Regions from separate parts of the Homo sapiens genome. Here region 1 is linked to region 2. Evidence: fine-mapped expression QTL. A gene starts in region 2. The other region holds a variant in brackets. All regions are shown on one strand. Distances are from middle to middle. Region 1 overlaps EPHB1 (EPH receptor B1). Region 2 holds the start of EPHB1 (EPH receptor B1).

Region 1 (4,000 bases), 110 kb before region 2:
ACCTCTGGGGTGATAGCCTCTGGGCTGCAAAGCAGCACAGGTCTAGGTAAAGTCCTCCAGCCCAACCCAGGAGCACATTCTCCAAGAGGGCCTTGGTTTACCACTGACCACACTGGCTGCTCTGATAAGTGTTATGATGGTCTGCTCTGGCGGCTGGCAAACTTCATATGTTAGGCTTTGGGAGCCATAAGATCTCTGTTGCAACTACTCAATTCTGCCATTGCCATTACCTCATGTAAGCAAACTATAGGCTGGATTTGGCCCATGATATATAATTTTCCCACCACTAGATAGTGAAGGGTTGTGGCCTGGACAAACATGCTAGAAGAATTTGATCAGTGATATTTAAAACTTGTCTTTTCACGTTTGATCACTTCATTCATTATTTTATTGTACAATTAAAAGAAAAAACTCTTACAGCTATCAGCATACCTATAAACGTCCACAAAAGTTTGTGTGACCTCTAGAATACCAGAAAATCACCAGCTGGAACCCAGAGGATACTCAATGAACAAAAATAAAATTAAATAAAATTTATATTACTAAGTCATCTAAATAGAGTGTACCTACAGAAGATGACTGGCCTAATTCTGATCTATGATGCTATCCCCTCGGGCTAAATGGTTTCAACAAAATTCAAAAAGGAATTTGAGTCCTTCCAAAGGGGTATAAAGGGAAACAGAATAAACATGGGGAACACAGGCCTCATTTGCCATTAATGAATTTGCAGAGGAACGTGTATAATTAGTGTGTTTGTCAGCTGGGTTTCTGTAGACTTGGCACATCAATGGGATCGCATCACCATGGGAGCGCTCAGAAGGGCCATGGGCCCTGGGCTCTCGGAAGAGTCTCCTCTGATCTTATGGAAACCACCAATCAGAGGTATGAGAAAGGAGATCAGCCAAGAGAAAATTCAATACTGCAAAATCAGGTGGCAGAGGAGTGAAGCTAGCAGATGGGCAAAGGGGGCTTCAGAAGGGAAGCCAACAGCAAGATGCTCAATCGAAACAGTCCAAGGACTGCCTGGGAATCATGGGGAAACGGCAAGGCTCTGTCTGGCTTTCACAGCTTAGAGGGCAGTTGGGAGGAAATGTCCACAGCAAGGCTCCTGGTCAGCACCAAGAGGAAACATAAGCCAAGAGTCAGTCCAGATTTGGCCAGACCTCAGCACAGGAAAAGAGGAGGCCAGAAGTGTGGTGTACTCCACAGGCCACACTGACTGGCCCTTGTAAAACCACCTCACCACCTGCTGCCTTTGCTCTTCCTCTTTTCCTTAGGCTTCCACTCCATTGCACCTTTTCCCAGCGGGTGGTCCCTACAGATGTGCTGGGCTGATGGATAAACCACATGTGCTTCCCAAAGCAGAATGCTTGCCCTGCCCCCTGGTTGGCAATGCTGGGCAGTCAGTAATGCCGGGAATGACAAGAGAAATGCCTGACATGCGGAAAGTGACAAGAGAAATGTGTGGAAGGTGTGGCGGGGAGTGGCTGCAGTGCGCACACTCCACAATCAGTTTGGTAGGCCAGCAGCATGTGGAAACTCACAGAGAAAATATGTCGGCTTCAGAGAGAGGCTCCTGGGGCCCCCTCAGCCAGCACTTTGGATAGCTCCAAAGAGGAAAGTGGAGGAAGGCTGATCCCCAGTGTCCATCCAATCTTCTCTACCTGCAACTTACAAGAGTATTCTAAAGAAACACTGCACTGGAGGTGGGTACTGATGCAGCTATTGGGGAGTGAAGCAGGACCCTCACCCACAGCCACAACCACTCCCACATGGTCTCAGGGGCTGACTCATGGTGACCAGTGCTGTGGAATCATGCCCCATTACTTTTGTTTTACAGTTTCAGCTCCTGTAGAGATCATTTGTCTCTCCAAGTGCAGTCCTGTGACTGGGCACTCTGCCACCTGGTGCAAAGCCCGCTCCCCTAAAAGGCCCCTGGTTAAAGCAGAGAAGTAAAAGAGCTAGGCATAGCAGACCCAAACAAGAACATTTTG[T/A]CAAAAACAGATCTCTTTCACCAACTAAGCTTGAACAAATTGTATAAACACTATATTTAGACACTTTGAAGGAATGTTTAAAGTTTGTGTTTCCTAAATGACAGTCAGATGTCTTCCCTGACTATCTGTGATCAGCTGTAGAATTCACTTCCCCATCCCATACTCGTGATCTCCAAGAGACTAGCTACTCAGTGTGTGTGCCAAAATCTCTCAGCCATAGCCCCTTGGTGAGGAGGTATTTCTCCCAGCTATGAACTTTTTCCCATGCAGAGTCAAACCATCCGCTGGCTCAGCAAGTGTAAAGCCCCAAAAACTGTGGGTTGTTGCTTCTGAGAAATGTCCACCCCCATGGTGCTTACCTGCCACCCCCCACCACAGACCACAGACCACAGACACACTGGCCCAGGCTGACACCCACTCGCAGGCACCCCTCCACCACCCTAGCAGCTGCCTGCTTTCACACGCTGCCTCAGAGATGAAAGCGACTATGTCCCTTAAACAGAAGAGAATATTTTGAACAGAGAATTAACAGCAAATTAAACTGGTTTCACTGTACTCATTCATGCACAAAATTAGTGTGGGAGTTAAACCAAGAAAAAGCAAACAGGCGATGTGTTGCGATAATCAGAGGGCAGAATCCAGCCTCAGAAAGAAATGTTCACTCAGAGGAGGAAAGCCTGGGAGCTACAGGCTCCTAATTGGGCAAGAGTGCTACCTCTTCTCCCACCTGGAGCCAGCCTCCTTTCCAGGGCTGGGGGATCCAAAAGGGCTTGGAGATCTCCTAGGCCAGCAGCAGACAGCCTCATGACAGGTAGACACACCCTCCTGAAAAGGCCCCCGGTGCTTGCCTGCTCTGCTCCCTGGGCAGCTGCTTGCACTGCCGCTGCACAATCAATGAAAAACATTACAGAAACAACCAATTAGGGCCTGAAATGCCTTCAGGCTTTTTCCTTCGTGGGCACATCTGGCTGCGGTGGGGTCACAGTGAAACTTCTCTCCTGTGGATTCACTGGGACCCAGAATTAGCAACAATGGAATAATAACCAGCTTTAGAACACCAAGCAATTTTTAATAACTTCACAAATCTTTCCTTCCAACTCTGTCTGGTTAATCTATTACCTAATTCTTACCTTTGATAGAATTCTTACCTTTGGTCCCTCCATTTACCAAGGCCCCATCATTCCCATCCCTAGAATAAAACCTGGTCCAGGCGTACACAGTCCAGGCTGGGTGGAAGGGAAGTATACATGAGTGGACAGTGAAAGGACCCCAAACTTCCAGCCCCAAGGACCTTCTGAGAAGGAGATTCTCAGAAAGGGCAGCAGCGATCCCAAGCAAATTCATTTTAATGACAAATGATGCTGCTAAAAGTGCCGGTGCTCACTGTGCACGTCAGCACATCCTAGGCCTTGAGGCAAGCTGAGGCTTCTCTCCTGGGCACACTGCTGAAGAGGCCAGAGAGGTTGGATGTGAAGAGTCAGCCTCTCTCATTCCATACACTCACCCTTGTTTTGCCAGCACCAGTAGGAGCTACCCTAAAGCTTCAGGGGATGCCTGGAATGCAGGAGCCCAGACTGGAGCCCTGAGCAGGCTCTCAGAGCCCTGCTCCTTCCAACGACCTCCAGATAAGCTCTTTGTTGTCCCCAGCTTGGCACGGAGCCACCCAGAGCTCCAAGTGGAGTGCCCGCACTTTTATTTCTATTTATTTTTAATACATCAAATAAGATGAGAGAAACATAAGTTTTAGTAATACCGAATATACAAATGGGACCTAGTACCCTCAACTTGGGCCATAGTCAGGACCATGTGTCCTGAAAAGCCTGCAAGGGCAACCTGCGGAAGGGTGGCCAGGGTGCCCTAACTCCATGTTCATTATCTGCATGGAATATGGCAATTTACAGATGCCTGGTGAAGAGCATTTCCAGGCCACATTATCTGGTTTAGACTAAACTAACCGTTATAGAGATGGAATAAGTGGCTTTCAAAATTGCTGCAAAAGATACTCA
Region 2 (4,000 bases):
AGTGGCTCCGGAAGGCCTGGGCTCTGACACAATGGCACCCGCGGGCAGCTTCCGGCAAGCAGACAGGGACCTCTGGCTAGCCAAGAAGAGGGGCAGGGAGGAAACTGACCACGTCCTCATGCCTGCTGTGTTTCCATACGTTTGCTCTCCAAACTACTTCGCTTGCATGCACAGGAACCCAATGCCGAGAGCACGCTCCCCAAAGTGGGCACCCATCTCCTCTGAGACCCGGCCACTGAACCTCTGGGGGCGCAAAGAGCCGCGGGCCGGACCGAGCCTCGGACCTGCATGACGCCACCCCAATGCTGCAAGTCCAGTCTGGAATTGCCCTTGCAAATGCGCTCACCCTGGCTTTCCTGCCCGGTTTGGGGGTATATATCCCCTTGAATTTCCAATTTCAACTGCTCCCACACGTGTCTCTCAATAAGTCAAACCCAGGCATCCCTGCGCCAGGGTGTTGACGGCACTCCACACGGCTCCAGTCTTCTCCTGCACGTTCCAAAAAGCAAACCCCTCCTTGCTCCCCTCCCTACAAAGCCCAGCAGTCCCTGAGGGAAGCAGGAGACTGAGGGCAGACAAAAAGCCACCTTCGGAAAAGCAAGCGAGAGCTTTCTAGGCATTAATCGCCGCACCCCCACGCCGCCACCAGAACAAACGTGGGATGCGGTGGTCTTCGCCAAAAGGGAAGGGAATCTTAGCCGCGCCTCAGGGCCCGGAATGCCCCTCCAGCTTCACTTCCAGAAGGGCAGAGCTTTCCGGAATGGCGGGGGGCACCAAACCATCGTGTTTGGGGGAGTTTCCACTGGGCAACCGGTCACAGTTTCGCGAGGAACGAGTAACAAGCGGAGCGAGCTCCCAGATGGGAACGCTGCGCGGTCGCCAAGAGCTGCTCCTCCCCGGCTTGGAGTCCCCCAGAGGAGTTCCATCCGGAGCAGGACACCGGAAAGTGGGGCTGCTAGCCGGACTGCGGCAGCGCATCACCCCTAGAGTTGGTTTTCTCCCGACAACTCCAACTCCGCTCTCCCGCGGAGCTGTGTTCCCAGGAGGCTGCCGCGGCCGCTGCTAGGCTGCGAAGAACAGAGGCGGGGGAAGGGGCGGGAGGCGGGGAGCTGGGCCGGGATTTCCCACAGGGATTCGCGAGCGCTACCGAGCGCCCAGGCTCCCCGCTGCGCCGGGCACGGTGTCTTTGGAGCGCGCTTTCCCAGCCACCAAGCCGGAGGCACCGCCAAGTCTGAGCTGGCAGAGAGTGACGCTGCCCGACGACTCCCGGCCGCCGAGTATCCTCTCCGGGGTGGTGGAGAGGCTGGGAGACTTTAGGTAGGACCGACCACTCACCCCAGCCCACTCCTGTTCCAAGGCTCAAGAGGCGAAAAGGGTTTCCACCTCTCCCCGACTGACCCTGGAAACCTGCAGTCCCGCAGGCGCCCGGACCACCAGACTGGTCCCCAAGGGTACGGCCAATGAACTCCACCCCTCTCCTTCGGCGGCCACTTGCGGGATACCACGGCAGAGCTTCTCCGGCCCCCGCGCGCAGTGCTTGCACGCCAAGCAGAGTCCACTAGCCCGTGGACTGCGAGCTGGAGAAAAGGAGGTGGCGCGCGGCTGCTCAGAAGCGTATCCGTGCCTGGGAGCAGACGGGCGCCAGTACTCCAGGAGCCGGATGGCCAGAGGCACCCCTTTCTCCCCAACGCCCAGCTCTGGCTCTGCCCCAGAGCTAAGGAGCATGCACCGCAATGCAGCGGGCTCCGAGCTCTCCGAGCGGGGGCTGCGGGAGACCGAGGCTACCAGGGAGTGCCGGGGCGAGGAAGCCGGGGGACTCGCGAGCCAGTTTCGGGCGCTAAGAGCCAGCCGGGGGCGCTCTGGTGGGTGCCGCCCAAGCCCCGCGCTCGGCAGCGGCCGAGGCTCCCAAACCTCCTTGCCCTCGGGTCCCGGGATGCCTGCACCGCAAAGCAGCCAGAGGAACCCCGCGAACCGCGGAGCACAGCAGTCCCAAGGCGGCCGGCACCAGCAGCCAACTTGCTCCGTGGAGGGTACGTTACCTTCCATCGCAGCCACTGCGGATGCCAGGAGGAGCAGTAGTAGATAATCCAGGGCCATCGCCGGCCGACGGCCCGCAGGCCGAGACCAAGCCGAGGCAGCAGCGCCGGGAGAGCGCCGCGTCCCAGGGCGCCGCTGCGCTCTCCGCGGGTGGCTTCTCGGTATCCTTTCGCGCTCTCGCCCGGACCGGACTTCCCGGAGCGCTGCGTGGGCGTGGGCAGGAGTGTGTGCGCGTGGGGCGGTGCGGGCGCGCGTGGGTGTGGGTGTGCATGTGTGTGTGTGTGTTTATGGGAGAGGTGGGTGTGTGCGTGCGTGTGTGAGAGAGAGAGGGCGAGGGAGAACGAGCCTGGGAGAGCGCGCGAGAGCGAGTGCGTCCTGGTGTCACATTGCTAGCTACAGCGGAGCCTACGGGAGGACGGAGCCGGCCAGACTGACGCGGGAGGGAGCGGGATCCCCCACCATCAGCTCTCTCCCCACCCCTAACACCTCCTGTCCAATCAAGGAATCAAACCTGCAAAATTCCCCCGGCCAATCAGGCGCGAGCACCTCCTTACACTGGCATTGTTAGTTTAAGAAAAACTTTTGCTTGCAAGGCTGTGCGGGAGGGCTCGGAAGGCGCTAGGAGGGGTCCGGGCTCCCCCTCGTGGTGCTCTCGGAGAACCGCAGCGGCCCGCCCAACTCACCCTGTCCCCCCATAGGGTGCCCAGCGAAGGAGCTGGGGAGGCCTCGTGCCCTTACATCCCACCCAGGACTGGATCCGCTTTAAATGATCAAACGAGCCTTCGTTCATCTTCTCTGTGACAAGAGCACCCTGCCTACCCTGTTTAGAGCAACTCCAGGGGCGCACCCGTGCCTCTCCTCCAGAGCTCTTCACTCTCTAGCATGGGTTGGTATTTACTAATCGATTTTGTTTATCGTGGGGTCTCTCCCTCATTAAAATGGGGTCACCATTTTCGGATTCTTGTCTATTTTGTTCACTACAGAATCCACAGTTCACAGAACAGTGCCTGGCCTGCGGGAGGCATAGTACATGTCCGTCGAAAGAATGAATACTGTTCAGATAACCTGTGGGCACTTGCTCCAGGGTCCACAGGGAACCGGATTTGCTTCCTGTCCAACGTTTCGCAGTTCTTTTTCTGCAGAAGCCTCTGGTTGCCTTTGGTGTTCACTTCCCAGTGCATTGTGAACTTCCACAGAGGGCCCTGACCCCAGAGGACAGCTCAGCGTGGGGAGACCAGGAGTCACACAGTCAGCTATAAAACAGCAAAGCCTGCAAGAGGGCTCTCCCAGGCCGGTGCAAGGCGAGGTGCACTGTTGCTGTGGGCCAGGCCTTCAGTGTGGGTGGGAAGGACTTAGGCAGCAACTGGGGATGCAGCCTTGGAGATAGGAGCAATTCTCCCAGGCTCAGCTCTCACAGCTACACTTTATCTTCCTGTTTCTGGAGATGGTCAAGGGTTCTAAATCAGAAACTCACCTTGAGGCTGTTATATGTTATGCTGGAGATGTGTCCTTCCCTCCTCTCCCGCCCCCCCTACATACCTGATGATAGTCTGGTCCTACAGGGTCAGGGATGACCCGTTAGGTTCCCCACCCCTCCTCCTACGCCTCTCACCTTGGAGGCACCAATCCTTTCCCCTGGTCTGTTAATGAGCTAACAGTGGGCAGATGCGATATTTCCCTTTGGGATGACTCTCCTTTCTGGGCTTTTCTAAATCAGTTCCCCACACCCCCCACCTCTGCGTGTCTAGTCTCTCCTTTGCTGGGACTTCTTCCTCTCCACCACAGCCAGACTCAAGTCCCCCAATCCTGACAATTCTTTCCTTCCCTGGCTCTGACTCAGGCTGCCTTCCTCCTCCCCTCCCCTCCCTCCTACCCCACCTCTGTGCCTGAAGGGAAGATGTCATCAACCTCCACCTTCTCATCATCCACCTTAATGCCATGTTAGCTGCCCTCTACGCCTCCA

What was found.
Region 1: its variant is fine-mapped to the expression of EPHB1 in caudate (GTEx, PIP 0.95). The same link has a PIP of 0.9 or more in cerebral cortex.

Annotation. Positions count from the first base shown.
Region 1 is chr3:134,902,853-134,906,852 of GRCh38, reverse strand. The region is part of intron 1 of EPHB1 (EPH receptor B1); the gene reads right to left. Among named protein-coding and RNA genes, the nearest start is that of EPHB1, 110 kb to the right of the region's middle. The variant T/A (reference allele first, on the strand shown) is at 1,995.
Region 2 is chr3:134,793,729-134,797,728 of GRCh38, reverse strand. EPHB1 (EPH receptor B1) reads right to left here and starts at 2,469. Exons shown (of 16, transcript NM_004441.5): 1 at 2,040-2,469. The coding sequence starts at 2,097. RefSeq lists enhancers at 2,094-2,283, 2,294-2,343, 2,388-2,682, 2,744-2,953.